Linked DNA regions of Homo sapiens: regions 1 and 2 are each linked to region 3. The links come from fine-mapping of genetic effects on gene expression. A gene starts in region 3. Each other region holds a variant in brackets. All regions are shown on one strand. Distances are between the middles of the regions.

Region 1 (10,667 bases), 41 kb before region 3:
ATTCAGCCCACCACAGATACTATCCCCCATCTTCTCCTCCCACAGTTGAGCTGTATGCCTAAGAATAGTTGGCTGTGTTTGTTTTTGGACTTGATTTGTGTTCGCTTTTGTAACTAATTTTAAAAATTAAGAAACCAGTGAAATCTGAGGGCAAAAAGAAAGACTTGCAGTGTGTATGAAAACAAGTAAAATGAACTAAGGTAAGTCACTAAAGAAATATGGTCACATAGGGTATGTAGCATGTGCCTGTAGTTCCAGCTACTCAGGAGACTGAGGAGGAAGGATCACTTGATCCCAGGCATTCAAGTGCAGCCTGGACAACATAGCAAGGAACTATCTCAAAAAAAAAAAAAAAAAAAAAAAAAAAAAAGTGGTCAAATTAGGTGTGGCCAGGAAATCTATGAAAGTTTTAGACAATAATTCACAACTCAAGAAGGATTAATCAATATATATAGGGATGGCTTGCGTAAGAAAGAAGAGGCAGAATATTTCTCAAGGGAGGTCTACTCAAACAAAAGGACTAGGCCCCATGTCAAAAAACTGGCCAACAAATGCACATTTAAACGCTGTTAAACGTTTAAAGTAGGTATGTTTAAATTATGATTTGCCTGCCTTAACCAACTTTTCAGGTTAACTAACCAACCTCTTACCAATCCTGATAAGAGGAATCCAATTAAATTTGATTCAGCGTTTTAGAGATAATACTAATCTATTAAGATAATAATTTGGCAGAAAGGTTTAATCAAGAGAGTGGAGCATAAACTGTATCGTGGATGTTATGTGGGATCTGAATGGATGGTTGGGGGTCAAAGCAAGGCACACGAGATGAAACAAACAGCATACAACTGTAGGGTTAGAAATGAGTAGGAATAGTCATTTCAACCTATGAGGTAGAACCCTGATAACTCCGAGTGTGGATCTCATTCCAGCAGTATCAGCAACACCTGGGAGCTTGTTAGAACTGCACATAGGGTGAGAGGAAGGAGAGGATCAGAAAAAATAGTGAATAGGTACTAGGCTTAATGCTTGGGTGATGAAATAATCTGTACAACAAACCCTCATGACACAAGTTTACTTATGTAACAAATCTGCACATGTACCTGTGAGCTTAAAAGTTAAAAAAAAAAAAAAAGAAAAGAAAAAAGAAAGAAATGCATCTTTCTGAGTGCTGTGGCTCACTCCTGTAATCCCAGCACTTTGGGAGGCTGAGGCAGAAGGATTGCTTGAGCCCAGGAGTTCAAGACCCGCCTGGGCAACATAATGAGACCCTGTCTTTACAAAAAATACAAAAACTTAGCCAGGTCTGGTGGCACATACCTGTAGTCCCAGCTGCTTGGGAAGCTGAGGCGGCAGGATCAATTGAGCCTGGGAGGTTGAGGCTTCAGTGAGCTATGATTGTGCCACTGCACTCCAGCCTGGGCAACAGAATGAGACCCTGTCTCAAAAAAAAAAAAAAAAAAAAGCATCTTTCAGGCCTCAGCCCAGACCCACTGAATCAGAATCTGCAATTTAACAAAACTCCAGGTAATTTAATTTCACATTAACCTGTGAGAAAGGCTGGTTTAGAGAGAGTGAGAGTCTTCCTAAACTGCACTGTAGAGTTAATATGGCACATATAAAACATAATGACAACTGAGTTATTAAGCACCTTCTATATGCCAGGCAAACTACCAGGTGCTTTGCAAACCTTGTCTTACTTATCTGAAAGATCCCAGTTTTGTAAAATAGAATTGATCTTTATTCTCAATAATGAAACAGTCTTTTCTGCTTTCTGCCATCCCTTTGGTTGAAGTTGGTATAAAGAATACATTAGTGTCTCAAAAATCTCAAATAATTGCTTTTTGAAATTCAGTATGTAAAATATTTTGACATAATTTTTTTTACTCCCTTCGTTGGCTGGGTTGCAAACTCTTACAGGTAGGAAGATCTCAAACTCCTTGATAATTTCAACCTATGAGAGAGAGGAAAAAAAAAACACAAGGGGAAACTCAAAAGCATTCTGGTTAGGACAGGGTAAAAAATAAATAAAATAAAATCAGCAAGAAATACACTCTATTAAGTGGAATTTGGAAATGATAAATCAGATTGAACCAAATCTTAGAGAGTTTGCAATAAAGTCTGGGTATTCTTACAGTGCTGCGTGTCTAAGCAGTTTATGCAAAAAGGGAGGGCCAAACCCTCTCTTTCCAAAGAAGGCAGTAAGACAGTCTGCCCTTTCCTTGCCCAGACTGGAAAACATGAAGTCCTTGTACCTTCTTGCCCCTCCCTGAGCTCAGCGTACAGCCCATACCGAACAGGGTAGAAGGAGTACCAGCAGCAACCCCGATGCTGGGATGTTGGGCAATAGTGGAGCACGATTAGTATGCCCATGCCTCACTCACTAGGGTGGTTTTCAGTAGACCTCCAGTTCTGACTAAGCTCCTCTCAACAAGATTCAGCCAGGCACTGTGGCACACGCCTGTAGTCCCAGCTACTTAGGAGGCTGCTGCAAGAGGATCGCCTGAACCCAGGAATTCGAGGCTGCAGTGAGCTGTGAGTGTGCCACTCCAGCCTGAACGACATTGCAAGACACCAGCCTCTAAAAAAAAAAAAAAATTTAAAAAACAAGAAAGATTCAGTGGTTCTTCACCCACTTGCAGACAGAGGGTCCCTAAAACGGTCAAGTGCGGGGTCCTAGTGCTCATTGCCATTGTGCTTAATTGTGACAGGAGTGGGGGCTGAGGGGATAGGAGGGCTGGGATAGGGGTGGGAGGGCATTCCTTTCCCTCAGGCTTTCACAGTGTACGTTTTGTATTCCAGAATCAGAAATCTGAGCGTAGGAAGAAGTGGGTTAGCCCTGGAGAAAGGAAAAGGAGGATCATGGTTCTCTGCAAAGAGCTGGAAGCTAAAAAGCAGGCTGTGTTTACTTACCAACCAGGACTCAGTGGGATCTTTGCCAGCTTCCAATATGGCCTTAAAAGTATATGAAATCCAAGAAATATTTCTGCAAAGCAAGAGATCTTCACTGCTTTATTTTCCACCACCTGAATCCTTGCAGTGAGTGTAGTGTGTATCTAATCAATCTATTAAAAAATACTTCAAAAGTTCTATATATGTATCAATATTTAATATTGTTTTTACATTATTTAAATGTTTTTCTAAATAATATTATAGTATATATATTCTGAAGCATTCTATTCAGTGACAAAGAATGATGTTTAGACAATTTACATTTATATAGGAAAACTCATAACCTGAATATGTCCTGTGGGATCAAACCACTGACCCTTCCAGGGTGGAAGAGACCTAAGGTAGTCAGCTTCCATCAAGCGGCCAGTTGGTCTCATTGAGGAATGGTGTCACATCAAGGGCTCAGTGTTGGTCTCTGTTGCAGATATATCAGACATTTGATAATGGCAGCAGCTGGATCAGTCTTGGTAAGGGTTGGAAGTATAGTTAGTCCTCACTTTGCATGGTCCCAATATGCACAAATCCTAGTTACCACCATTTAGTTAAATCACACCAGAACCCCAACAACATGGTTCAAATTTCAGCTACAACGTTATTAACTGTGCACAATTACACAAAGTACAAACCTCACTGTCAGCTCTTTAGTCCACAAATCACTATGTAAATAACAGATGCATAGCATGATCAATAACCAATCACACCTCTCCTTTCAAAGTCCACTAATGATTGGCCACTGCACATATGTTCAGTTCCTACACAGCAAAGCGTGTAGTTGTGTTGCTGATTTTCCTGTGAATGAAGCCACATGATGGTTTACAATAATGGATACTCAAAAGAGGAAATTGGCCAACAAAGATGAAAGCGCAGAAAAAAGTCCAAAAAGTAGTAATGCTAGAAATGAACTCCAAATTGAATGAGTTACAGAAAAACAGTTCACTGTGAGAATGTGGCCACTGCATCATTCAAGAGGATATGCAGCCAGAGGAACTTAGCAAAGGCAAACTTAACATAAATGAGGAAGGAAGTGTGGCAAAAAGCATGCTGTCTCAGAGGAAGCGGTCCTGGCAGAAACTTCACATTGAAGCAACTCTGGGAAATTTTTCATGACGCTGAAAACACAAAGGATAAAATGTTGGGAGCTGATCCAGTCTTAGAAAGGAGAACAATTCATCACGTCAGAGAAAAGATGCTCTCTCCATGTCGTAAGTTACACAAGAAGGTAAGCACTATCCAAATGACTCTTGTTGTTTCATTTACAATTTATTTACTCTTGCTATTTGTTTTCTTTTTCTTTTTTTGAGAGGGACTCTCACTCTGTAGCCCAGGCTGGAGTGCAGTGGCGCAATCTCGACTCACTGCAAACTCTGCCTCCAGGTTCAAGCAATTCTCCTGCCTCAGCCTCTCAAGTAGCTGGAATTACAGGTGTACACCACCATGCCCAGCTAATTTTTGTATTTTTAGTGGAGACGAGGTTTCACCATGTTGGCCAGGCTGGTCTCAAACTCCTGACCTCAGGTGATCCACCTGCCTTGGCCTCCCAAATTGCTGGGATTGCAGCCGTGAGCCACCGTGCCCGGTCTACTCTTGCTATTTATTTTCTATGTTGTTTATTTACGTAGAAATTTAATATTTCTAATGTTTAAATTACTAACGTTTAAAAACCTTAGATAATATACATTTAATAGTTTATTTTGAGCAAAGAACAATTCATGAATTGGTAGTTCTCAGAATCAAAAGAAATTCAGAATGCTTTGTTGCAGCAGCATGGGCAGTGAGCTTTTACACAAAGGGAAGATGAAAGTGTACTTCATTGGATTAGGTGGAAAGACCCTAGTTAGAGGTTAGCTGGTGTTTTCTTATTGGTAGTCTTTAGTTTTGTTTTACTCTTTACACTGGGCTCCAGTCTGCTTACATATAGGAACCTAAAGTGGTAGGGTTGCCTCCGTCTTGTTAAAAGAAAAACTTCAGCTGAATTAAATTTAAAGGAGTTTAATTGAGCAATGAATGATTCACGAATTGGGCAGTCCCCAGAATCACAGCAGATTCGGGGACTCCAGAGAAGGCTTGTGGTTAGAACAAATTTATAAACAAAAAAAGGGAAGTGATGTACAGAAATCAGCAGTGAGGTACAGAAACAGCTGGATTGGTTACAGGCTGGCATTTGCTTTATTTGAACATGGTTTCAACACTTAGCAGGCTATGAGTGGCTGAAATATGGCTGCTGGGATTGGCCAAAAATGCAGCTATTGTTACAGGTGCATGCTTCTAAATTAGGATTTCAATTTTGTATGCCTATTAAGCTAAGTTACAGTTTGTCCACAAGGACTCAAATATAGAAGCACGAAGTCCTTCTCAGGCCATATTTAGTTTGCTTTAACAGTCTAATGCCCTCCCTGTTAGAATTTTTGTTAAAAACAATTATTCTCTGCTTTTGGTCAGCCTCTTATGAGAGACTGAACAATACTTAGGCATAGGCA[C/G]CCCTCCCTGTCACCATCACAGGTAAGTTGTCTTTGTCTCTGTGGAACTCACAAGTCATGATGTTAGGCTCATTGAAGAAAGATTCCCTTTGTTGTTCACATCATTATTGTCACTCTGATCAAGGTGAGAGCATCTAATGTACCACTGATGGCTGAGAGCATGCATTTAAGACTCTTGACAGAATACAGCAAACAGGGTGATTACAATGATGACCATCAGGAGGATAATACCAAGAGACTAGAGTATGCTCCTTAGCCAAGGTCCTCATGAATCAAACCAGCTAAAATTGAATAAATCAAGGAATGAACCAGAGGGGGATTCAACTTGTTTTAACCAGGTGGCCTGTTTGTTAATTTCTTGTGATTGAGTTTCTAATACAAGAGGTATTTATCCAGGCACAACAGGAGGAATAGGATAAAATGAGCATATTGCATAGACTCTTCCTTGTTCAGCCAATAGTCCAATGCAAGTCTATTATCTAAAACTACTCAAGTAAGGGAATTTAGAGATTTTTGTTGGATAGCTATAGCCTTAGCTGTAGAACCCGCAATAGTAACTAATGTCAAAGAAAAATTTTTGACCTTTATTTCATTTGTAGTCATCCCAAGCCATGGAAAAATGGACCTAACATATGATGCCCCCTTGGCAGGGTTGTCATCTGCTGGTCAGTTTCTTTTTAATCTATGATGCAGGTTTAGAGGGGTGTACTGATGTTTAGCTTCTGACTGGTTATGTAGTGACAATGGCACCATTAAAATCCCTAGTCCCCATTGGTCTTTCATTCTCCATCTGTCAAGGTATGGGGTGGTCCAAGCATATGGCTGACAGTTAAATTCTCTGCTTATAAAGATGTACCTAGGACATTCCTGAAAGCCTGGTTGTGGGGTGGCGGAGGGCAGTGGTAGGAAGGATGTACCTAGGGTGAACAAGCCTCCTCCTTGGGAGACTTCAGTTATGGAGTAATTAGTTGGCATCAGCAGTTTCTAACCAAGAGACTGATACTGAGTTATTACGTCCTAGAAGGCTACCAAAATACGTATGTAGATAGGCATTCTTGTAAATAGCTCTGTTAATGTTCTCCTTTTTTGTGCATAGCCTCCTTGCAATATGGTCAGCAGACCTGGCCATCCTATTCTATGGTTGGGTTAAACAAGAAGTAAGAATAAAGGGGTCTAGAAGTTTAACTCTATAAAGGGACCAACAGTATAATCTAAACAGATTGTTGCATTTGAGATTCTGGCAAATTGAGTCACAAGATATACTAATGGGTCTCTAAAAAGCCATGCAAGTATTTTGACTTAGCATGGAAAATCCAGAATTTAGCTAAATTTTCTGCAGAAGCTATAGACTGTGAGATTCTAATTATGGCATTATCGTGCCATACACAGAAAGGAAGAGTAAGAAACAGGAGATGAAAAGAACAGGGGTTCCATGATAGGAAGAGGAGGTACTTTTTTTTTTTTTTTTTTGAGATGGAGTCTTGCTCTGTCACCCAGGCTGGATTGCAGTGGCACTATCTCGGCTCACTGCAAGCTCCACCTCCCAGGTTCACGCCACTCACCTGCCTCAGCCTCCCGAGTAGCTGGGACTACAGGCACCCGCCACCATGCCCGACTAATTTTTTGTATTTTTAGTAGAGACGGGGTTTCACTGTGTTAGCCAGGATGGTCTTGATCTTCTGACCTCGTGATCTGCCCTCCTCGGCCTCCCAAAGTGCTGGGATTACAGGCGTGAGCCACTGCACCCACCCCAGGAAGAGGAGGTTCTTGATCTCTGATCTTGGGAAGGCTGTCTACATTCAAGATGCCATCTGCTTTGGGGAGAGATGTTCCTGGCCAACTTTACCTTGAGATCCTTAACTGGTGGTCAGTTCTGAGAGTCTGGAAGGGCCCTCTTGAGTTGAGAAACATTGGTCCAAAACTCAAGGCTTTACTGTAGTGTAAGTGGTGAGAAGTTGGTGTGGTCCCTTCCAGTGAGACTCAAGGGCAGACTTTCTTTGATATAAATTCCAAAAGACCCAGTTTCCAAGTTCTAGACCATGAGGATTCTGATAATCAGTCAGTGGGTCACAGAAAGCTACTATTACCAGATAGAAATACAGTAAGTCCTCAATTGATGTCGTCGTTGATAGTTTTATGGAAACAATGATTTTAAGCAAAACAGTGTTCCTTGAATAATGTATTTCATTCAATGTTGTTTCATTTTAACGTTGATGAGAAAAATTAAATTTGTTTTATTATACATTGTTTTGCTTAAAATCACACTTTCCAAGAGCTGATCAATGATGTTGTGAGAACTTATTGCATGCTTCAGCATAATTTATCAAGGTCTGGCAATATTGAGTCATACCACAGGTTACAAATATGGGAGGTACATGAAGCTGTATTATTACGGGCATAGGTCTTTCAGTACTATTTCATGAGGTGTCATCTTGTGCTTTCCAGCATGGGTAGATATAATTGCCATTAAGCCCAGTGTTCAAACTTTTGGCCAGGCAATCCAGAAGATTCCATCATTTTGGCCAATTTTAGTTTTAGGTTGCCATTTGCCTATTCAACCTTTCCAGAAGACTAGGGATAAGGACAATGGTCATGCTATTTTGTTTGTAAACCTTTAAAAAAATTGTTTAATAATTTGTCCAGTAGGCCAGGCGTGGTGGCTAATGCCTGTAATTCCAGCACTTTGGGAGGCTAAGGCAGGCGGATCACCTGAGGTCAAGAGTTTGAGATCAGCCTGGCCAACATGGTGAAACTTTGTCTCTACTAAAAGTACAAAAATTAGCCAGATGGTGGTACATGCCTGTAATCCCAGCTACTTGGGAGCCTGAGGCAGGAGAATCACTTGAACACAGGAGGCGAAGGTTGCAGTGAGCCGAGACCATGCCACTGCACCCCAGCCTGGATAACAGAGCAAGACTCTGCCTCAAAAATAACAATAACAATAATAATAATAATAATAATAATAATAATAATAATAATAATAAATTTGTCCAGTAAAATGAGTTCCTCTATCACTGGAAATCTTTCTAGGGATATCCCATAAAGGAAACATATGCTCTGTTTTTTGTATTTTTTTGTGTTGTTTTTTTTTTGCTACTGTTGTGGCATCAGCCTTCCTGCATGGCAAGGCCTCAATCCACCCTGAGAACAGGCATACAGTTACAGGAACATACTGGTAGCCCATTGAGGGTAGCAACTAAATGAAGTTCTTTTGTAGGTGTTCACATGGTCCAGCAGGTGGTAGAAATGTACCGTTTGAAACCTTAATGGTTTTCACAGAATTATGAATCTGATAAATCAGACTTGGGTTATGAACCATTTTTGCAACTTTAGAACAATTACTCCACCAATACTTTTTCATAATTTGAACCATTTTGTCTACACTCTGGTGAGCTGTGGAGTGCAGAGCCTTTAATACTGGTAGTTTTAAGGACTTAGGGAGGACTAGGTGGCTGTCAGGGCCCTCAGTGAGTTCACATTTGGTATTAAATTTGCATCCTTTTAAGTGCCAATTTTGGTTTTCTAATTCAGGTGCATAGAATCGTTTATTTAACAAATTATCATAGGTGATTTGATCTGAATTAATGTTATAGAGTTCAACCAAATTATATATCCTAACATGTTTAGTGACAGCTACCTTAGCATGGAAGTCCACTAAGGCATTGTCTTGATATTTAGGTTCAGTTTTACAAGTGAGCTTCAATTTTAATAATAGCAACTTGTGAGGGCAGCAAAATAGCAGAAGGAAGTTCATTTGCCTGGGGCTCATTTTCGGTGGTGGACCCACTTGAAATGAGGACCCCTCTTTGCTTCTAATACATGCCAAAATCATGGACTACCCCCAAAGGCTTATCTACTGTCTGTATAAATGTTGTCTGATTTGCCCTGAGATATTTGACAGGCCTGAGTGAGAGCATGTACCTCTGCTGGTTGGGCTGACTTCAACTGGGGAAGAGCTCCCTTTTCTGTTAATTCATTCTGGGTAGTCCAGGCATGCCCTCCTTGGTATTTTACTTCCGCATTTTTAGCATAAAATCCATCAGCAAAATGTATTATCTCAAGGTGTTTAATGGGGCATCTTATAAATCAGTTGAGGAGTCAATAGCTGTGATATGAGATTTACATAGTTGTGGTCCTCACCTTTGTCAAGTAAGGGTAGTAGGGTAGAAGGGTTAAGTAGATTGCAGCATTATTTTATTTATTTATTTATTTATTTATTTATTTATTTTGTTTTATTTTGAGACGGAGCCTCTGTCGCTCAAGCTGGAGTGCAGTGGCACAATCTCGGGTCACTGCAACCTCCGCCTCCCAGATTCAAGCAGTTCTCCTGCCTCAGCCTCCCAAATAGCTGGGATTACAGGCACCTGCCACCATGTCTGGCTAAATTTTTGTATTTTTTTAGTAGAGATGGGGTTTCACCATGTTGGCCAGGCTGGTCTCAAACTCCTGACCTCAACTGATCCGTCCACCTCAGGCTCCCAAAGTGCTGGGATTACAGGTGTGAGCCACCATGCCCAGCCAAGATTGCAGCATTTTATATGAGATTAGAAGGAGACAGGAGAAGAATTTCAAAAGATGTTAGTCTACTTGCTGAGAAATGTTGAGTTTGACTGGAATTTAATAGACTTTCCAAAGCGTGTGGAGCTTGCGAATAAAATTCATTTCCTAAAATCAGCTCAGATGAGACCTCAACCAATCTGGATGCTTCTGCTACTACCTTTAAACAATTGGGATCCACCTTAGCTACTGGGTCTAATTGCAGCCTATTAAGTGATGGGCCTATGTTTTCCTCTGTGTTCTTAAGTAAGAATTTCTAAAGCCTCGTTGTTATGTTCATGAATGAATGAAGTGAAAGTGATACAGGTTTGCTATAATTTCAGAGTCCTAAGGCTGGAGGTTGTGGTAGGGCCAGTTTTGGTTGGCTGAAGCCTGTTCATGATTATCCTCCCACGCTAAAGGCTCTGGGTCAGAGTTTTGTGCAAGTTCATACAAGCGAGATGCCAACAAGGAAAGATTTGGGACCTAAGACCTACAATATCCTGCAAATTCAAAGGAACCTCTTAGTTGTCTTTTAGACATGGATCAAGAGAAACTTTGAATAATTTTCATTCTTTCAGGTGACAGGAAAGTTTCTTCTGCAGGCAACAGTGGACATTTCCTCTAGAAAATTGGAGTCTTTCCATGGAAGCCTATGGCTTTTGTAAGCTAATTGTTGTAAGACGTAGATTGAGGCCAGGTGCG
Region 2 (10,228 bases), 46 kb after region 3:
TTTCTGATTTCAGAAGTACCACATTGTAAAACTGAACATTAAAAAACAAAGAAAACAACCAACAAAAGGGCACAAGGACCCTTTTGGTAGTGAGGGGTATGTTTATTGTCTAGATTGTGGTGATGGTTTCATGGGTATATGCGTATGTCCACACTTCAGATTATAGACATTAAATGCGTACAGTTTTCTGTATAACGATTATATCTCAGTAAAGCTGTTTAAAAAACACTAAACATTAGAAGAACTCCAGTATGTGAAAGACAGAAAGGAGAAGAGATTCCCCTCAGTAACATTCCCCTGCCCCAAGGTTATCGCTGTGGAACAGCTGCCTGTGCAGCCTTGTGGACCTCACATAAGGACTTCTATACAGGAGGCACTATAGGTAAATTCTGAAAGCCAAATTTGGACCATACTATCACAAGCGATACCATTCACCTTTCAAACAGTGGACTTTCACCCAAGGTATTACAGATTTAAATGACCATTAAAATTACCTGGCAGTTGTGTCTGGAAAGGTCTTTCTAGTGATGTCCATGGAGCTGTGACTGAATGGAAGTTCTGACCTCACTGGGACCTTCTAAAGCCTAAAATGGAGCCATGAGATGCATACAGGCACTTTTATTCAGAGATTATTTAGACAGTTGTGTTCATCAGGGTTTTTTTTTTTTTTTTTTTTTTTTTTTTTGACAGGGACTCACTCTGTCACCCAGGCTGGAGTGCAGTGGTGCAATCTCAGCTCACTGTAGCCTCAACCTCCCCAGCTCCAGTGATCCTCCCACCTCAGCCTCCCGAGTAGCTAGGACTACAGGCATGCACCATCACGCCTGGCTAGTTTTTGTATTTTTTGTACAGACACAGTCTTGCCATGTTGCCCAGGCTGGTCTCAAAGTCCTGAACTCAAGCAATCACCCACCTCAGCCTGCCAAAGTGTTGGGATTACAGACATAAGCCACTGCACCCAGCCTGTCAGTTTTTGATTGAGAGATGTCATGGGAGCAAAGGAAAGATCCAAGGTTTAAGGTACTGGCAATGCAGAGAGGCTAGGCTGGGCATCAGTGGGGCTGAGTTGGCCTGGAGAAAGGAAGAAAGAATTAGGCTTCCAGAAAAGAAGAGTGTGCTTATCAAGGAGACACTGGAAACAAAGCAGCTTGGCGCTGATGTTGATTGAAAAGTGTGGTTCTTAGCGTTTGGATGCTTTACTGGAGTTAATGTCTAATTTTGTTGGTTAGTAAGAAATAAATGTAGAGTGTTAAGGTATCATAAGCAAAATAAATCATAAACATTCAGTATCTTCGGTGTTTGAGGCAATCCAGATTGAAAAGCATTGAGGTGATTTGGGAAGGGCTATTATACCCTACTTTTCTCTTCCACCTGTTTCTGAATTTTGCCCTTAATATGAAAGACAGCAATACGTATAAATCTTTAAATGGACTTTTTTTTTTTCCATAGTGTTCTTTCAGAGGACCAAGACAGTTACCTGTGTAATGTCACCTTGTTTAGGAAGGCAGTTGATGACTTCAGACACAAAGCCAGAGAAAACAAGTAAGATTATTGTTTTTTTGTTTATTTACTTTGTTAGATCAGCTGTATACAATGTGAACAATTTTGTTTTTTTTCCCCCAAATTTAGATTCATTGTTCGTGACTTCCAGTATAATGAAGAGGAGATGAAAGCAGATAAAGAAGAAATGAACAGGCTTTCTACTGATAAGAAAAAACAATTTGTATGTGTTTTTAATATTTAGTATTATCAGTACTAAGCAGAAGAAAAAGTGGTATTGCTTTCCTTTGATTTAAAAGAAAGTAAAAATCTGCTTTGGTTTTAAGACATTTGATTTTAGTTTTTTTTTTTAATTGAATAATCAGAATGAATTTCCTCTAAAGCTTAACTGTTCTAGAGATAACTATTCTATTTCTAAGAAAGCTTTCTTCTAAAGCTTATGTCTATCTGAGATAGAATAGAGTAGATAGAATAGTTATCCTAAAATACATACTTAAAAAGAAATTACTCCACCTAAATCCATATCAGACATTAATTTTAAATGCAGTATTCTGGTTAACATCCTTGTAGGTGAAGGGTGATTTTAGTTAAGTAACGAAGTTCTTTTCAGTAAGACTTTTCACTTTCTTGAGGCAGATTTTTTCAATGCCTCAATCTTTTATTGAAGCAATTTGTATTTAAGCTATTGGAGAATTGGTGTGTTCTAGGTGTAATGGGAAACGAGTGGAATTGTGAAAATCAAAGATGGTGTTAACTTTCTTGCCATCTTCAAGTGTGGGATTACTGTGAAGACTAAAAGCTTGTTTGGAAAGGGAAACATAATGAGTGAAAATGTGTTTCTCTTAATAATGTAAGAGGAAATTAAGGGAAATATTGAAAATTATTTCCAAGTACTTTATAAGCCATATCATCTCAACTAGGAGGAAACTCATTCTAACCAAGTAATGTCAAAATAACCAGCTTTTTAGGGCAAACCCAAAATCCTTTTAAAAAATAGATATTTTGACAAGATTTTCACTTGTTTTGCTATCCTTTTGCTTAAATTAATTGTTTGGTACATCCAAATGAGCCTAATAATGTTATCCAAGGAAGTGTTAGCTGAATCTTTTAAGTATGGAGAGAGGAGGTATTTGAAATCCGCTTAATCCTACTAAATATTTGAAGTTTAAAAAGAACTTAACGCTATACAATTTAGAATGTAAAGAGGTTTTAGATGTCTAGACCAACTCCCTTTTTTACAGATGGGAAAACTAAGAGCTAGTGCTGTTAAATGACTTGCCTACATAACTGTTTATCTTTGTTACTAAGAAGTTGTTTGTAAGTTGAATTTCATTTTACATGTATTAAATGTTTTAGAGTGTTGTGTAGTAAATTCAGATCTTTATATTTTGATTTTCCAACCTAAGGCATTTCTATATTTTGTACCATTTTAACTACTTTTATTAAAATATATACCTTTTTCTGTGTTAGTGAATTGGTTCAATGCATTTTAGTGTCTGTTGAGATCTCTCTGTAGTGGCGAACCTTTTAATCTAATTTAAGATAAGGTATCTGAGATAATGAGAATAATAGTGAAACATGTAGAAAGTGAATTATGCGACTTAATTCTTCTATAGATTCCTAATAGGTAGTCACTTAAAAAAATATTTGGTCTATCTAATTGCTATTTCTAAGACCAAATTTGTGGTAATTTTTTTTCTTTTTATAGGGACCACTTGTACGGTGGCTGAAAGTGAATTTTAGTGAAGCATTTATTGCATGGATTCACGTGAAAGCATTACGGGTTTTCGTTGAGTCTGTTTTAAGGTAAAGCAAGTTAATTGCCAAACTTGGAACTGAAGAGTTCATAGATTCCTTACATTGGACCTCTTTATTATAACACAGTCCAGCAATAGGAAATTGATTTGGAGAAATCAAAGGGCCAATCATGAGACAGAGATTATCAGTATCATCATACAGCTTATAAAATGCATATTAGTCTTGTTCTTTAGCACCAGGTTTAGAAAAAGAGATTTATGCTGCCATACCCTCAGGTTCTTTTTCTTGTGTAGGTACTTAAAAGTAGATTAAATATTAACCAATATTTGTTTAAAAGGAAGATCCTTCAGGTGTTTTATATGTCATTGGATACATAGTATGCTAATGACTTATTGAAATCATTTCATATTAACCTAAAGTATTTTAATATTTTGAGATATTTAAAAAATCATATTCTGGTCCAATGTATGGGTTGCTCATATTAGAAATAGTTTTAAAAAACCCAAAACTTGGCCGG[G/A]TGCAGTGGCTCACGCCTGTAATCCCAGCACTTTGGGAGGCTGAGGCAGGCAGATCACGAGGTCCGATTGAGACCATCCTGGCTAACAGGGTGAAATCCTGTCTCTACTAAAAATATAAAAAAATTAGCCAAGTGTGGTGGCACGCGCCTGTAGTGCTGGCTACTTGGGAGACTGAGGCAGAGAATCACTTGAACCCAGGAGGTGGAGGTTGCAGTGAGCCGAGATTGTGCCACTGCACTATTGCACCACTGCACTCCAGCCTGGGCAACAGAGCGAGACTCCGCCTGAAAAAACAAAACACAAAACAAACAAAAAAACACCCCAAAACTTACATGTAACCATGCTCACTATTTTTAAATTTTTTCAAATTTTCAAACTATATGTGGGTAACCTCATGCTATTACCATAAAAGTATCTGCTGACCTTACTTCTTCTTATTTCCTGAGGATATTCATATATTACCTTAAAAATTGAATGGTAAGCCAGGCGTGGTGGCTCATGCCTGTAGTCCCAGCACTTTGGGAGGCCAAGGCGGGCAGATCATGAGGTCAAGAGATTGAGACCATGCTGGCCAACATGGTGAAACCCCGTCTCTACTAAAAATAGAAAAATCAGCTGGGCATGGTGGTATGTGCCTGTAATCCCAGCTACTCAGGAGGCTGAGGCAGGAGAATGGCTTGAACCCAGGAGGCGGAGATTGCAGTGAGCCAGGATTGCACCACTGCACTCCAGCCTGGCAACAGTAAGAATCCGTCTCAAAAGAAAAAAAAAATGAATGGTAATTGAAGTAATTCCTAGTAATTGGCGTAGAGATTTCTAGTGGACAGTGGGGACCAAAGGTTTGCGTTTCTGTTTATATTGAAGTTTTTTGTGTATATTAGTTTCAGTTTCTATATATATTAGTTGAACTTGTAAAGGTAAAGGGAGATATTCTCTCCCCGTTAACCATGATTAAAGAGTATGAGAATATTTGCTTTGAAAAGAAAATCTCTTTACATGTTTGCTTGTATTGCGTACTGTATTTCTGCTTTTTTGTAAGGTATGGCTTGCCAGTGAACTTCCAAGCAATGCTACTTCAGCCCAATAAGAAAACTTTGAAGAAACTGAGAGAAGTATTACATGAATTGTATAAACATCTAGACAGCAGTGCAGCAGCTATTATTGATGTAAGTACTTATTAGCCCAGTAGAGTAAGAATTGAAGTGAATTTCAGAAAAAAAATGATTGAAAGAAGATAGACAGAAAAGGGAGGGTAAGTATGAAACTTAATCATTTTTTATTACTTTGAGGTTCTCAATTTGTTATGTAAACATAGTAATTTACATTGTTTACCCTGTTTTATACTAATTATATCTGTGTTTTGCTTCTTGGCATTTCTACAAGCTAGTAATTATCTTGCTGTGTATCAGATGTTTATAGCTGCAGAAATACAGAAACCAGTGATACTAGTTATTTACAAAAACTATAAATTGCAGAGAGGAAGAAAATAAGCAGTTATTTTAATTTTATTTGGTAGAAGCGATAGAGTCAATAGATGAGTATTTTCAAGGTAGGTTCATTTTTCTAAAATGGCGTAGCTGGGCGTGGTGGGACATGTTGGTAGTCCCAGCAACTGAGGAGGCTGAGGCGGGAGGATCACTTGAGCCCAGGCCTTCGAGACCAACCTGGGTAACATAGTAAGATCCCATCTGAAAAAAGAAAAAAAAAAACAGACCAAAAAATGTATTATGTGTTTATATCTTCTTTTAAACAAAACTGTTATTTTTTAAACAAAAGAAGATATAAACAGAGTTACTTGTGTTTTTTTGTTGTTGCTGTTTAAAATTGTAGTGGGCCGCTGGGCGTGGTGGCTCACGCCTGTAATCCCAGCACTTTGGGAGGCCGAGGCGGGGGGATCACCTTAAGTCAGGAGTTTGAGACCGGCCTGGCCAACATGGTGAAACCCCGTCTCTACTAGAAATACAATAATTAGCTGGGCGTGGCAGCGGTCACCTATAATCCCAGCTACTCGGGAGCCTGAGGCAGGAGAATCGCTTGAACCTCGGGGGGTGGTTGCAGTGAGCCAAGATTGCGCCACTGCACTCCAGCCTGGGTGACAGAGGGAGACTCCGTCCCAAAAAAAAAAAAAAAAAAAATTGTAGTGGGCTTTTACTTTATATTTCTGGTTTTAAATATCTTGCTGATTTTTTTTTTTCTCTTTAAAAGTTTAGGGTAGATGGTAGCATCTCACATAGGCATTAATTAGAACTATGAAAAATCAGTTTTTCTTGATAGAAGGAAATGCGGGAAATGACTTGCTACACTTTTTTTCTTTTTCTTTTTTTTTTTTTTTTTTTCGAGATGGAGTTTCGCTCTTTTGCCCAGGCTGGAGTGAAGTGGCGTGATCTTGGCTCACTGCAGTCTCTGCCTCCTGGGTTCAGGCAGTTCTCCTGCCTCAGCCTCCTGAGTAGCTGGGATTATGCCTGGCTAATTTTTGTATTTTTAGTAGAGCTGCGGTTTCACCATGTTGGCCAGGCTGGTCTTGAACTCCTGACCTCAGGTGATCCGCCCACCTCGGCCTCCCAAAGTGCTAAGATTACAGGCGTGAGCCACCTTGCCCCCGGCCAACTTGCTCCACTTTCATGCAATTGTGGATAAAATGAGAGGTATAATTATTTGATACATAAATGTTCTAGCAGTAAATTCTTATAACATGCATTTATAATAAGTGTTATCCTTGCTTGTTTTTTGGCTCTGTTGCTCAGGCTAGAATGCAGTGGCATGGTTTTGGCTCACTGCAGCCTCAACCTCTATGCTCAAGTGATCCTCCCACCTCAGCCTTCCAAGTAGTTGGGACTATAGGCACGCAGTACCACTGCTGGTTAATGTTTTTATTTTTATTTTTTGTAGCGATAGAGTCTCACTATGTTGCCCAGACTGGTCTTGAACTCCTGGGCTCAAGGCCTTGGCCTCTCAAAGTGCTGATATTACAGAATAAGTATTACTTATAAATCATACTTGCTTTATTTTTACTCCATATTTTGTAAGTCTTGTATCCCATCAACTCAGTATTCTAAGTCCAAGATTTAAAAAGTTAATTTTTACAGTATACATAAAAAAGGTTGGTGGGATCATGCTAAATACATATGCAGTCAGAATGCTTGAACCTGGCTTTACCACTCACTGTCTGTGTTTCCTAGGAGAAGTCAGTCTTTCAGAGATTGTTTTCTCATTTGCAAAATGGGAATAATGTCTAACTCAGATAAATTAGCCTTAAGTGCATACATTTAGCCCAGAGTAGATGTTCAATAAAAAGGTAAATGTTAATACTTGCTTTCTTTTTTTGAGTTCTGTAAATACAAAATTGAATAATTGTCTGTTTTTTCCATAGGCTCCTATGGATATTCCAGGTTTAAACCTGAGTCAACAAGAATACTACCCCTATGTGTACTACAAGATTGATTGCAACTTGCTGGAATTCAAGTGAAAATGGGCTCCTCCCCCGACAATCCTGTCCTTGTGTTTGTGTGTGCTAACAGAAATAAGTTGCAGTATGGTCGTACTTTTAACTCTAGTATCCTTTGCTTGCTTCTTACGCCCTTTCCTAGGTGAATTCTCCCACAGTGGTCTGTATCTCAACATTTTCTTTTTAAAGGAAAAAATATATATATATAGTTTCTTTTTATTGATCAGGTCTGTAAATGTGTACTAAAAAAATCAGAGTTTATTTATAAACAAAATAGTTTATTTAAAGAGAAGGTCTCTTCCTTATTGATATCATGGTATGCATTAATTCCATTTGTTACTATTGTGCACAAAAGCCCTGTTCACAGGGGAATGGTGTAAACATTTATACTGTTTTGTTCACTGTATTTAGTAGACATAACTGTTGAATAGTTACTGAATCATGATGTAAAGAATATGTGACCATCTTCAGGTATGGGATTTCTGAACGTTTCAAATTTCAATCAATGAGCACTGTCAACACCCACAGGAGAGAATAAAATTACCTGTGCAAAGGTGTATTGTGGTGTGTGTAACTTAAGATTACAGTTCTGTTTGAGAGTTAAATGATGTCATAGCTCACTTGCTATGCTGCTTCCAGGATTTTGTTATATGCTGAGGTGTAACCATTTGTGTTGTCTGACTTTCGTATGATTTAATTGAGCCAAATTTGGGTCAGAACACAAATTTGAAGATGACTTTTCAGTATATGATGGGTATTTACATTTGAACACTAGAATTTTAGGTCTCTCAAATAATTAAGAATAGAGCCAGTTTTGAATAAAGTCTAGCAGAACTATGCAGCTTTAGTCATTTGTTTTGTCTAAGTCTGTATTTTATGTGTTGTCTTCTTAAGATCTATAATTTTGGCATTTATGTCATTTGTGACATAGTCTGAAAATAGAGACATTGTTGGCCTTTAAAATCTCAGAAATGAATGACTTAATTTAGTGTCCTGAAAGAGCTTTTAAAAGAGGATTTTGTGGCAATGTTTCTCTTACTACGTACTCACAGGTTTGCAAATGGGAAAAAAGTTTACATTTCAGTTTAGGGGCATATCTAAGCTATGCTATTCCCTTTAGAAAATTAGCCTCCAAAATCTTTTGTTTCAAAATATTATATTATTTCATAAATAATTTCAAGCAAATACAGACATCCACAATGTAGAACATGAGAGACCCCCTCCCTCAATTTCCACCTCCCAAGGGAAGTTTATGTATTTTTCTAGGCCCTTTTCTATGTCTTTACATCTCTGTCTCACACACACACACGTATACACACACACAGTTTATTTTTAATAAAATAGGATTATACCACACACATCCTGTCACTTGCTTTTTTGCTTAAGAGTATATCTAAGAGAATCCTTTGTGTCAGTGAAGCTGGAGCTACCTCATTCTTTTAACTGGCTGCGTGGCGTTCCATTGAGTGTCTGTCATCATGTGTTTAGCCGAGTGGATGGATAGTCTGCTTGTTTTTAGTTTTTGCTCTTAACAAACACTGCTGCAGTCAGCATCCTTGCACAGATTTCTTTGTATACTTGTATTAGTATTTCTGTAAGATCTGAGAAGTGGAATTTGTAGGGTCATAGGTTATGTACACTTAAGTTTTTGACACTCACTGCCAAGTCATCTGTCAGAATTCTAAACTAAAGACATGTTTGGAGTGTGGATTTATCTTCAGTTTTTCTTTGGACAAGAGGAAGCTGTGAAAGATTTTGCTATCAGAAAATTTTGGTTCTTTGTCTTTTGCACATGTTCTTTGAGTCTTAGTATCTGTAACGTGGCGCTACTCTCTCTATCATGGGGGGGCATGTTTTGACATTAAATTGACTTTTAAGAAAAACATGTCACTAACCTGAAGCTCAGCCACACAGTGACTTTTAAGGTTTTATTTAGACTTTACTGTTGTTCTCATGAGAGTAGGTACAGACTGCATAAGGTTTAGAATCCCAGCATATGTCTGAAACGACGGGACTTTCACTGTGATTTCCACCAGAGAAATTATAGCAGAGTGGCTGAGCATGTGCTCTGAGGCCAGGCCCCAGCTCTGCTGCTGACGAGCTGTGTGGTCCTGGGCAGAGTGGTCTCCGAGTTCCAGTCCCTCCTCTGTAAAATGGGCATGATTAGAGTGCCCACCGCATTAGGGATGTTGGGGTGAGTCAGTGTGACCCCACGTGCACAGAAAGTGCTGCGAGTGGTGCATGGTGAGAGGTTGATGCAGGTACTTAGCCCTTGGGGAACACAGGTAGTTCCTTTTCACTGTGTTTAATTTGGGAAAATCCAGATCCACATCATTGTAGAGTCTGAGGGTTAGAAGGAAGTCATTGTGTCTAACATAACAACAGAGCAGTTTGTGTCACTGAGCTCCAGTCTGTGCTGGATTATTGATATTGTTGGTGGCGGTCACCATTCCTGGAAAGGGACTGTCCCAAGCCACTTACCTTCCCGAGGAGTCTGCTGGTTCTCCTTGAGGATAGTGCTTAGATAACAGACTCATTAAACATTTACTGAGTGTCTGTCAGGGATCATTCACATCCACATCATCCTCCCGGCCCCTCCCCGTGTTGTTCATGGAGGGAGTACTGGCGGTCCCCATTTTCATGTATGGAGACTTCAGGTGAAAGAAGTTAAGTGAATTCTTTGTTGAGTCACAAATCTTGAGCCAGTCAGAATTTGAACCTAAGATTTTTGACTGCTGGTTGTCACACTTCCCGCCCCACACTCAACTGTTGTGTGAATGAGCCAGACACATTGCTTAACCTGAGTCCGAGATGGACAATGGTATAGGAAAGATATTCGGTATGGAGAATCAGATGTTAACTTGTGTTGCTATTTTTGTTTTGTTTTGTTTTGTTTTGTTTTTGAGACAAGGTCTTGCTCTGTCACCCAGGCTAGAGTGCAGTGGCATGATCAGGGCTTACTGCAGCCTCACCCTCGATTTCCTGGGCTCAAGCAATCCTCCCACCT
Region 3 (10,667 bases):
ACTAGTAGTGTAAGAGTCTATCTTACCACACCCTCACCAGCATTGGCTATTATGTGTATATTTCTATCTTTGCTAATATGAGTTATTTCTATTTATTTTAATATTTGTGTTTATAAAATTTTGTATTGTTCTTATTTATATTTTTGAGCACTAGTAAGAGTGAATATTCCCCGTATGTTATAGCCAATAGCACTTCTTTTTTTCTTAACTGTTTTGTGCTTTTTGCTCATTTGTCTTTTGGATGGTCTTAGTATTGTTCCTTTTTTTTTGAGACAGAGTCTTGCTCTGTCACCCAGGCTGGAGTGCAGTGTCGCTATCTTGGCTCATTGCAACCTCTGCCTCCCAGGTTCAAGCAATTCTCATCCCTCAGCCTCCTGAGTAGCTGGGATGACAGGCATACACCACCACACCTTAATAATTTTTGTATTTTTTAGTAGAGACAAGGTTTTGCAATGTTGGCCTGGCTGGTCTTAAACTCCCGGCCTCAAGTGATCCGTCTTCCTTGGCCTCCCAAAGTGCTGGGATTACAGGCATGAGCCACCGTGCTCAGCCCTTAGTATTGCTTTTATCAATTTGTTCAAGCTCTCTGTATATTATAACCTGGATAGCATATATGTCTACAAAAGAATTTTGCATAAAGGCATTTGAGCGTAGACTTTATTAAAGCTCTGGGAAGATGGCAAAGGATTTAAATCACAGCAACTGAAGTAAGCTCAAATTGAGTTCTAAATATTCCTCTTTTTATAAGTCCCTTGTCATTTGTCTTTCTCTTTTCTCTTTCTTTCCTTCTCTTCCCTATGCCTCTCTCCCATCTCTTCATTCTCCAATTTCTGTTGCTTTTCAGTGGAAACTAGCTCAAGTTATTTCTTTGGTCTTTGCCTCCATTTAACCATACTCTCAGTTTTTCTTCCACCCTAGTGGAAGATATTAGTTTATCAAGGTATTTTCTTAAACAAGGACACTTAGTTTCCTAAGGGAAATGCCAGTAACAACTTTCAAGATATCTTGACTATTATACCAGAGTGAAAAAGAGTTCTGAATCCTGTTGCCCTATTTGCTTCAAATACTTTCTCCACTTTGTTTAACTAATGGATACTAGGCTTAATACCTGGGTGATGAAATAATCTGTACAACAAACCTCCTTGACACAAGTTTACCTATGTAACAAACCTGCGCACGTACCCCTGAACTTAAAATAAAAGTTAAAAAATATTTAAAAAATTAAAAAAAGAAAACAGTAATCAAAAAACAAAATAATTGGTTGCTGGTATGATTCCATCCTGCACAGCTGTTCTCTGGAGCGTGGTTGTTTACCTCTGCCTGGCTTCTCTCCTACCTAAGTGCTTGCCGCCACCCATGGAAGATTTGACGGACATGGACATCAGCCTCCTGAGGCCCCAGAACTATCTTTTTGGTTGTGACTAGAGGCCAACAAAGATTATCACTTTAAGGTGGATAATGATGAAAATGAGCACAAGTTATCTTTAAGAATGGTCAGTTTAGGGGCTGGTAGAAAGGATGGATTTTATATTGTTGAAGCAGAAGTAATGAACTATGAAGGCAGTCCAATTAAAGTAATACTAGCAACTTTAAAAAGGTATGTACAGTCAATGGTTTATCTTGGGGGCTTTGAAATAACATTGCCTGTGGCCTTACACTCAGTGTGTTTCAGGGCCTGGGCATATGAGTACACAGCACTTAACAGGTATGAAGGAAGATACAAAGCAGGACATGAAGAGGAGGGAGATGTGAGACTTTTCAGTATATCTGGAAAGTGATCTGCCCCTGGAAGTGGGTACATTTCTACAAGAAAAAAATAAAACTTCTTGCTGATGAAAATCATGATGATGATGAAGAGGAAGAACATTTTGATGAAGGGAAAACTGAAGAAAAAGCTCTAGTGATGAAATTTATACAGGATACTCCATCCAAAAAATGCACAAAGATCAAACCAAAATAAAAAAGACTCAGAACTATCAAGATTAAGACCAAAAGGTCAAGAATCCTTCAAAAACAGGGGGAAAAAACCTCTTAAAACACCAAAAGGACCTAGTTTTGTAGAATATATTAAAAGCAAAAATGCAAGCAAGTATAGAAAAAGTTGGTTCTCTTCCCAAAGCTAAGTGCATCAATTATGTGAAGAATTACTTCTGGATGACCAACTAGGAGGCTATTCACCATCTCTGGCAGTGGAAGAAGTCTCTTTAAGAACACAGTTTAGGCCAAGCGTGGTGGCTCATGCCTGTAACCCTAGCACTTTGGGAGGCCAAGGTGGGCAGATCACTTGAGGTCAGGAGTTCAAAACCAGCCTGGCCAACATGGTGAAACCTTGTCTCTCCAAAAATAAATAAATAAATAAATAAAAATACAAAAAATTTGCCAGGCGTGGTGGTGGATGCCTGTATTCCCAGCTACTTGGGAGGCTGAGACAGGAGAATCGCTTGAACCTGGGAGGCAGAGGTTGCAGTGAGCAGAGATCACGCCATTGCATTCCAGCATGGGCAACAGAGTGAGACTCTGTCTCAAAAAAAAAAAAAAATAGTTTAAACAGCTTGTTAAAATTTTCTTTCTTCTTTTTTTTTTTAAATCTTTTAACCCAATAGTTCTTTTAGAGAAAAAAATTACCTGTCATTTCGTTAATAGTTCTTTTAGAGAAAAAAATTATCTGTCATTTCATTTCTGTAACAGTTGATATCTAACTGTCCTTTTTACAATTCAGAGTGAGAAGTTCCCTAGCACGTTGGATAAATATTGTCCAGGTTCCATTGCCAAAAATGTGTTGTCCAAAATGCCCCTGTAGTTTTTAAAGATGAAACTCCATCGTTTGCTTGTTTTTTTTTTTGAGACAGAGTCTTGCTCTGTCACTCAGGCTGGAGGGCAGTGGCACTATCTTGGCTCACTGCAGCCTCTGGCTCCCAGGCTCAAGCAATTCTCCTGCCTCAGCCTCCCAAGCAGCTGGGATTACAGGCATGCACCACCACACCCAGCTAATTTTTGTATTTTTAGTAGAGATGGCATTTTGCCATGTTGGTCAGGAAGGTGTCAAACTCCTGGCCTCAAGTGATCTGCCCACCTCAGCCTCCCAAAGTGCTGGGATTACAGGTGTGAGCCACCACGCCTGGCTCTTTGCTTGGTTTTCAGTATATATGTATGTATGGAATATTATGATAGGACATAGTAGTAGCTGTGGTCAGACAAATGGAAATGGTGGGAAGACAAAAATATGTAACTGAAATAAGCTCAATATTTTAATAAAGGAAAAAATAAATTTTTTCCCCGGAAAAAGTTGTAAGAAAAAAATAAATCTTCTCCCATGCATCTTAGGAGTGCTTTAAACTTAGATGTTTGGAGATGAGTAGTCTTTAGATAGGTGGAAATGGAGGAAAAGGTGTGACATGCCCATGGCTACCTAGTATGCTTCTATGCATAGTACAGTTTTTAAAAAGTGAGTTGCTTCTCTGTAAAAACATATTACTTTACTATTAGAAACCACTGGAGAGCAATCATGCCCTGCTTATATTAAACATCTTTGCTAGATTTTTATTTGATTTTTTGAGATGGGGTCTTGCTCTGTTGCCCAGGCTGGAGTGTATGGTGCAATTTTAGCTCACTGCAGCCTCGAACTCCTGGGCTCAAGGGGTCCTCCCACCTCAGCCTCCCGAGTAGCTGGGACTATAGGCATGCACCACCATGCCCAGCTATGTTTCCTAAATTTTTAAGTGAGATACATTAAACCTCATAAAAATTAGAGCTAACATTTATTGAACACTCTGTTGTACTGCCTCCCAAGTATAACATGGTAATTAAAACACTGGAGGCCAGGCACGATGGCTCACCCCTGTAATCCCAGCACTTTGGGAGGGCCAAGTGGGCAGATCACTTGACCTCAGGACTTGGAGACCAGCTTGGCCAACATGAGGAAAACCCGTCTCTACTAAAAATACAAAAATTAGTTGGGTGTGATGGTGCACGCCTGTAGTCCCAGCTACTTAGGAGGGCAAGGCACAAGAATCGCTTGAACCCGGGAGGTGGAGTTTGCAGTGAGCTGAGATCGCACCACTGCTCTCCAACCTGGGCGACAGGGCGAGACTCCATCTCAAAAAAAACCCCAAAACTAAAAAAAAAACCCCAAATGTTGGAAAGTTGCGCGAGGTATAATTCAGTTTAGAAATTAAGAATCCAAGACAAAAAGTCTGCCTCAGGACCACACACAAGCACGAAGAAACCAAGATAGTTCAAGCATGGACCTTAAAACTGCACTGTCTAAGGCTGTTGTCACTGGTCTCATGTGGCTATTTAAATTTTAATTAAAGTGAAATAAATTTTAAAATTCAGTTACTAAGTCACACTAACCATATTTCAAGTGCTCAATGGCTCCATGTAGCTAGTGGGTACTGTACAGACAGCACAGGATAACATTTGCATCATGGCAGAAAGTTTTAGTGGACCTAACCAAAAAAAAAATGCCTTTAGGCTCATTTCGTGATGGCAGATAAAAGCCTCTGGAATTCTGATAAGTTTCTGAAGCCATGTTATAGAACTGGTTATTGTAATTGCATGAACTTCATCCAAAACTGGTGAAAGCGTCAGGTTGGGGATAGTCTGGTGGTTGTTACTTTCTGTCCAACCTAATACTGAGGCTCTGAGAAATTCTGTGGTGAATTTCTGTAGGGGGACACAGCAGAAAAGGCATAGTATAGGTCAGAAAACCTGGGTCCTATAATACATAGTAATAATGACGACCATTTACTGGTTGTTTCCTATGTACCAGGCACTGTGCTAACCACAGGCTTCATTTAATCCTCACAATACCTGTGTAAGGTATTATTACCACCACTTTGCATGTGAACAGGCTGAAATTCAGAGGAGTAAGGTCACACAACTAGTAAGTAGGAGAGCCTGGATTCAACACCTGGTATCTATTCCCTTGCGCTGAACAACTCCGTGCCCTCACTTTCTTCATCTGTAGATCTAAAAGGATTAAATTAGAACATCTCAAAATTTCTACTACTTCTAAAACTCTGTGTTCTAAATTAGGACATTACTATCTATCTCCCCAAGCTAATGAAATAAGCAGGGTTCCTGGGAGGAGCTTGTTACCTATTTTTCTCCAAAGGAGATGCTTTCCCCTGTCTATGCCTCTGTCCTAAAACCTTTGGTTTCCCACTATCTAATGTGGTTTCAACTATCTATGAGGCGCTTTCGTGGCAAGGAGTGATTCTCTCCAGTAGGCAATCCTAAGAACGAGCGCAGTGCTTGGCGCACAGTAAATGCTCCATGGACCATTTATGAAATTAAGTCTAAGTGGACTTCAGGAAAATGTGAATCTGCTAAAATGAACTACTAGCCAGTATACTAGGTAGAAAACCCAGCTGACGAAGAAAACCCCAAGTGGAGAAGCCCTTGTAGGGGGTTGGAGACAATTTCTGACCCGCAGAAACCTGCAGTGGCGCTGACGTTTACAAGTGGTGGACAAAACGCCACTTGCAACACTGGAAGAAGCGGAAAACCCCACCCACTCTGGAACAACAGCGATCAGCCCCGAATATAGGGTCCCCTTGCCGCCCCGTAGCCTCCTAGTCCCGCCCCTCTCCCAAGGCCCGGCAGTGGCAGCGGCTGCGGCTGCGCAGTGGCGCGGGCGTAGGCGGAGCAGCGCGCGCCGCGGTCAGCTGACTGCTGGGCTGGCACGTGACTTGTTCTGTGTTCGCTTGGGTAGAGGAAGCCGTGAGGCCGGAGCTTAGGTCGGGAAGGGATGGATCGCTGAGCCGATAGCGTCCGCTAGGCTGTCTGCCTCGGTACCTGTTACTGCTGCTACTTCCTCGTTTGACACCTTCCTGGGTCAGTGAGCGATGGCTCTCCCCGGATGGGGAGTCCTGGTCAGGCCGAAGCATGAGCTCCGGTCGCTGCCTGGGAGGGACGCGGGTGGGTGCGGGGGCAGAGACCGTGGCGTTGGAGCTGGAGCTGGCTGGGTGGCTGTGTCTGGTTTCTCGGCGCCAATTCACCGTCTTGGGCCTAGGTTCCGTCTCTAAGGAAGAGAAGGAGGGAAAAAGAGAAAGAGCTCTCGTGGGTAGTTAATGACAGGCAGAAAGGAGAGATACAGCGGTCTGGGATCTTTCTTCTTGGGTAGGAATGCACGCCGCCTGATTGATTGAGGGGAATGAAGTGATAGGTCCAGGTGAGGCTATGGAGTGGTGTGTGTGAGGTCACAGCTAGCGCAAGTGCCTTCACTGGGTGTGTGTTGGGGGGGGCGCGGGTGTCGGGGGTCGGGGGTGGTGGGATGACAGTTTAAAGGCCTAGGAGCCCCTAACTGCAGGCAAGGAACCCTCACAGAGTACACAAGGTCCCTCTAGGAATGAGAAAGAACAGGAATCCAGAGAACTCAACTATTTTTTAGTAGAATGGGGGAGGGTAGGCAAACAAAACAGAACAAAACAAAACAAACCCCTAGAAAAGAACTTGGTGAGAGTCACATAAGGCATATTGAATCACTTGAGAAACAGGAGTAAGGGGGAAGCTAGTATTCTTTTCAGAGGAAAATTCTGGTATGTTAGGGAAAAATCACATGCTTCAGTGCGAGCCCAGTACTTAGCGCCGCTCTGGGAATGGAACGGGTGGGATGTGAACAGTCTATCCTTAGGAGTTAGCACTAACGTTGGAGAGAAAAGTCTACACACAGGACACGTTAAAATACGATGCAGTTTATGTATACTTACCAAAAAGAGAATGCGAAGTGCTTTGAAAGTGTGGAGCAACGACACATGTGTAAACTGGCACTATGGGAAGATATTCTGGAGGAAAGAAAACTTGAGTCTTGGCAAGCCCTCAGGATTTGAACAGGTTGAGAGAAATGGGGATAATTTTACAGGCAGGGAAAGCCACAGGATTTGAAAGCCTGAAGATGGGGGTAGGGAATGCTTCTGGTGGAGTCAGAAGTAGCTTTTACAGTGGATTGCACTGCGGAGAAGTGGGAAAGAAAGTTGGGAGTCAGGTAACGAGGACTTTTGAATGGTAGTCGTTTACTTATTCATGCAAATAATGTGTACTGAATACATGCTGTATGCAGGTACAGTGCTGATGGTAGGGTTTAGAAAATTGTCTTTATAGAGCTTACAGGCAAGCAGAGGGGATGGATTTTAAAAATCAAGCAAGCGTGAAATGTGCTTTGAAGGAATAACAGTGGTATGAAAGAGTGTAGTAGGGGCATGTGTATTATGGAAGATTTTAAAAAGGCATTGCTAAGAATATGACTTTTTAAAGATTAAAACAATTTTATTTATATTCTTCATACCCTCTCGCTCTGAGAGGGTATGACTTTTGACCTGAGATCTGAAAAGAGACTGAAAAGGGAATGTGAAGGTGTGAGTGAAAAGAACATTCCAGGCCTGGCAGGGTGGCTCGTGACTATAATCCCAACATTTTGGGAGGCTGAGGTGGGAGGATTGCCTGAGGCCAGGAGTTCAGGACCAGCCTGGGCAACATAGTGAGACCACCGTCTCTACCAAAAATAAAAAAATAACTAGCTGGGAGTGGTGGTGTGTGCTTGTAGTCCTAGCTGCTCGGGAGGCTGAGGCGAGAGGATCATTTGAGCCCAGTAGTTCGAGGCTGCAGTGAGCTGTGATCATGCCACTGCACTCCCTCCTGGGAAACAGAGCTAGACCCTGTCTCTGAAAAACGAAAAAGGAACATTTCAGGCTGAAGCAACAGCGTATGTCAAGGCCCTGAAATGTGAAGAGGAAGAAAGCTTTTCAGCCTTTTTGAAAGGCTAGCATGGCTGAAACGGGGAGGGAGAGAGGCAGGTGGAGAAAGCTGGGGTCACGCCAAGCAGAGCTTTTATTCTAAAAACAGAGGGAAGCCAGTGAAGATTACAGGCAGTGGATTGAGACAGGTTGTGGCTTTTTTTTTTTTTTTTTGGTGGGGGGGAGATAATGTGGAGGGTGGCAAAAGTGAATGAGGGGAGACCCGCTCAGGGGAACATTGTTGTAATCCACTGAAGGATTTGAAGACAAGATACCTTCTCTCTCCACTGAGGACTTCAGAATGTTTAACTGTATTCACTTTTAGAGGGTTCAGGACTTGGGGAAGGGAAAGAATGATTCGATTCTATTTGTACCCTTCACAGGGTAGTCGTAACTACCCTCGAGGCAGTCCTGAAGTACATAGCAGAGGCTCTTTTGCAAAAATTTGTTTTGGCTTTTCAAATTTATCCTTTTGTAAGGTCATCTATTTCAGAATATCTTTTATTGAAATATAGTTACAGGGAGGGATCACTTTCATATTTATTTTGTTCTCACAGTTCTTTGAAAGACAGTGGATGAAAATGCTATTCATTGTATAGATGGGAACCTGGAGCTAGAGAAACACGTAAAGTGATTTGGCTGAGTCCGGAGTAACTGCCACAGTTTTCTGACTGCTGATGTATTCCTGCTGATTACCTACACAGTACTAACCACAGTCACATCTAGAGAAAAGGGCGAGTTTTTTGAAGTGCACAGTAGTCTTTGATTCAGCATTTTTTTTTGGGGGGGGGGAACTTCTCCCTGAAGAGTCAGCACTTTTGATGAACTTTTTCTAGTAGAACAGCTTCAAAGGAATTGGCAGTGGTGGGCTATGTCTTATCTATAATCTTGGATAGAGCTGTTCAATTTACAGTTCATCTGGAGGAAATAATGAACAATAAGGTGAACTGAAAGTGCTCAGGTTGTCAATCACAGTTCTTTGGCAAAAAGTGAGTCTCAAATTATGCTGAAGACTGAGCCTCAGGGTTCTGTCTCAGAAGTCCTGGATCTTTTTCTCTTTTGGTATACCTTGTAGGGACTAGATAAAATCTAAAGAAACAGTACTCAGGATCTAACTAAATGCTGAGAGCTAGATAGTGTAATTCAGCTTTTAAAACTTGGCACAAAATACTCATTTTTATTTTTTTGGTATATTAGTCTTAGGAGCCTCATGTACATTAGTTTTTTCAACCTAAAAAGAAACTTCAGGGCTTCAAAAATCTGATTTTGTGATTATTTCCACAACTCACGAGATAATACCATTGGCCAACTGGAATGCCAAAGTAAACCTTTGCCAAAGGTCTCCATGTAGTTTACCCGTCCCTAAGCAGCAAGTCTTCTTTTGAACTTGGTTCTGCTTAGGAGTACTACAGTTTTGACTGAGTACCTCCTACTTAAAATTTTGCTCTTGTACATATTTAAATCTGTCTACAGGTTACATCTTTTTCACTCTTTGGGTGTGGAATTATATATCATTTATAAATTAATTCATGTTAGATTTCCATTTTTCATCAATTTTTAAAGACAGACATAGTATAAACATTAGCATAGTGCCCTTGGGACGCTTAGGCAGTGAACCAAGGCAGTCTAAAATTTCCTATTGACATGAGTGATTCTTGGAACTAGAAATTTCAAACTATATTCTTGATGCTGAAACAAAATTTTTTATCCAGCAGGACATCTACTTCTAAGATTATACCATGTGCAAATGTACTATGCGTTTATTGAGTTAAAAAAATGAGCCAGGTAGGCAGTGGAGGAGAGGTGCTTTGGTTACTATGCATTTATTGAGTTAAAAAATGAGCCAGGTAGGCAGTGGAGGAGAAGTGCTTTGGTTACATCGGGGATAAAAGAGTATTAACTGTATATCTAAAATGTGGGGTGTGTGTGTGTGTGTCTGTGTGAGTATGTGTGTGTATTTGAAAATAAAATGCTAGGTAAGTGATGTTTTATAGAAAGGGATCGATGGATCTTCTAAGATATTTTAAACAGACTATCAATGAATAGGAAGTTGTAAATTAAGGCGTGTTAACAGGTGGTTTAACTTTACCATGAAAGGTTTTCCTTTTGAATCAGCCCATAGTTTAGTGTTTCTATGTGGGTGCTATTGGCAGTTTGGAGGTCTGTTTCGCCCCTACCCACTAAATGCTGATTAGCGATCTCCACATTGGGACAACCCAAAATGCTCCCATACATTTCCAGACTCCTCCTGGAGGAGAGAGGCACCATTTGGTGCAAAACATGCATGTGGTGTCAGTTTATTTGTTGGACAAATATTAAGATGTTGAGGTTACAGAGGTTAAAAGTAATATTTTAATAAACTGCATATAATGGAATTCAAGTAATTTAAAATCTAGTGTTTGATGTTTTAATGTAACTCCTTTAGTGTAAAATTACTGAAACTATATCCTAATATTTCTTTGAGGCACTTGTCTTTTGTAAAACTGCATGAATAACTCAAATAGAGTCCCCTTAATCCCAATAAAATGTAGTCACTAAATGTCTTTGGGCAACTAATTTCACCAGCTGTTCCCTCATTTGCAAGTGGGGGTGGTGATAACACATCTTGTGAGGGAATTAAATACAAAATTGCTTTAGTAGATGCAAGTGCTTATCACTGGGCACAACATGTGGTACATATTCAGTGATAGTTGTTACCAGTAAACAGAATCTCAAGCTTACTTAGGGTCATGAGTTGGAGAAAACTAATCTTAAAGTCTTTAAGTTGGTGAATTTCAGGCCAAAATACATTGTATTGGAGATATCAGCACCTTCTAGCAGAATGTGGTACCGTGGTCCAGTCACTATTATAAATTGCCAGCCATGAAGAAAAGGGAAGTCATGTTTTGGGAGCCATGAGTGTAGATTCAGGGAATCCCCTGGCATGGAAGG

What was found.
Region 1: its variant is fine-mapped to the expression of ATP6V1C1 in whole blood (TOPMed, PIP 0.98).
Region 2: its variant is fine-mapped to the expression of ATP6V1C1 in whole blood (INTERVAL, PIP above 0.99).

What each region holds. Positions count from the first base shown.
Region 1 is chr8:102,974,788-102,985,454 of GRCh38, forward strand. MAILR (macrophage interferon regulatory lncRNA) reads left to right here. Exons shown (of 3, transcript NR_126339.1): 3 at 2,800-3,089. Among named protein-coding and RNA genes, the nearest start is that of ATP6V1C1, 41 kb to the right of the region's middle. RefSeq lists an enhancer at 4,917-5,066. The variant C/G (reference allele first, on the strand shown) is at 5,427.
Region 2 is chr8:103,061,506-103,071,733 of GRCh38, forward strand. ATP6V1C1 (ATPase H+ transporting V1 subunit C1) reads left to right here. Exons shown (of 13, transcript NM_001695.5): 9 at 1,450-1,542; 10 at 1,630-1,723; 11 at 3,209-3,306; 12 at 4,816-4,942; 13 at 7,147-10,228. The coding sequence ends at 7,242. Among named protein-coding and RNA genes, the nearest start is that of ATP6V1C1, 46 kb to the left of the region's middle. The variant G/A (reference allele first, on the strand shown) is at 3,776.
Region 3 is chr8:103,015,388-103,026,054 of GRCh38, forward strand. ATP6V1C1 (ATPase H+ transporting V1 subunit C1) reads left to right here and starts at 5,696. Exons shown (of 13, transcript NM_001695.5): 1 at 5,696-5,838. It also overlaps the pseudogene NPM1P52. RefSeq lists an enhancer at 5,926-6,135.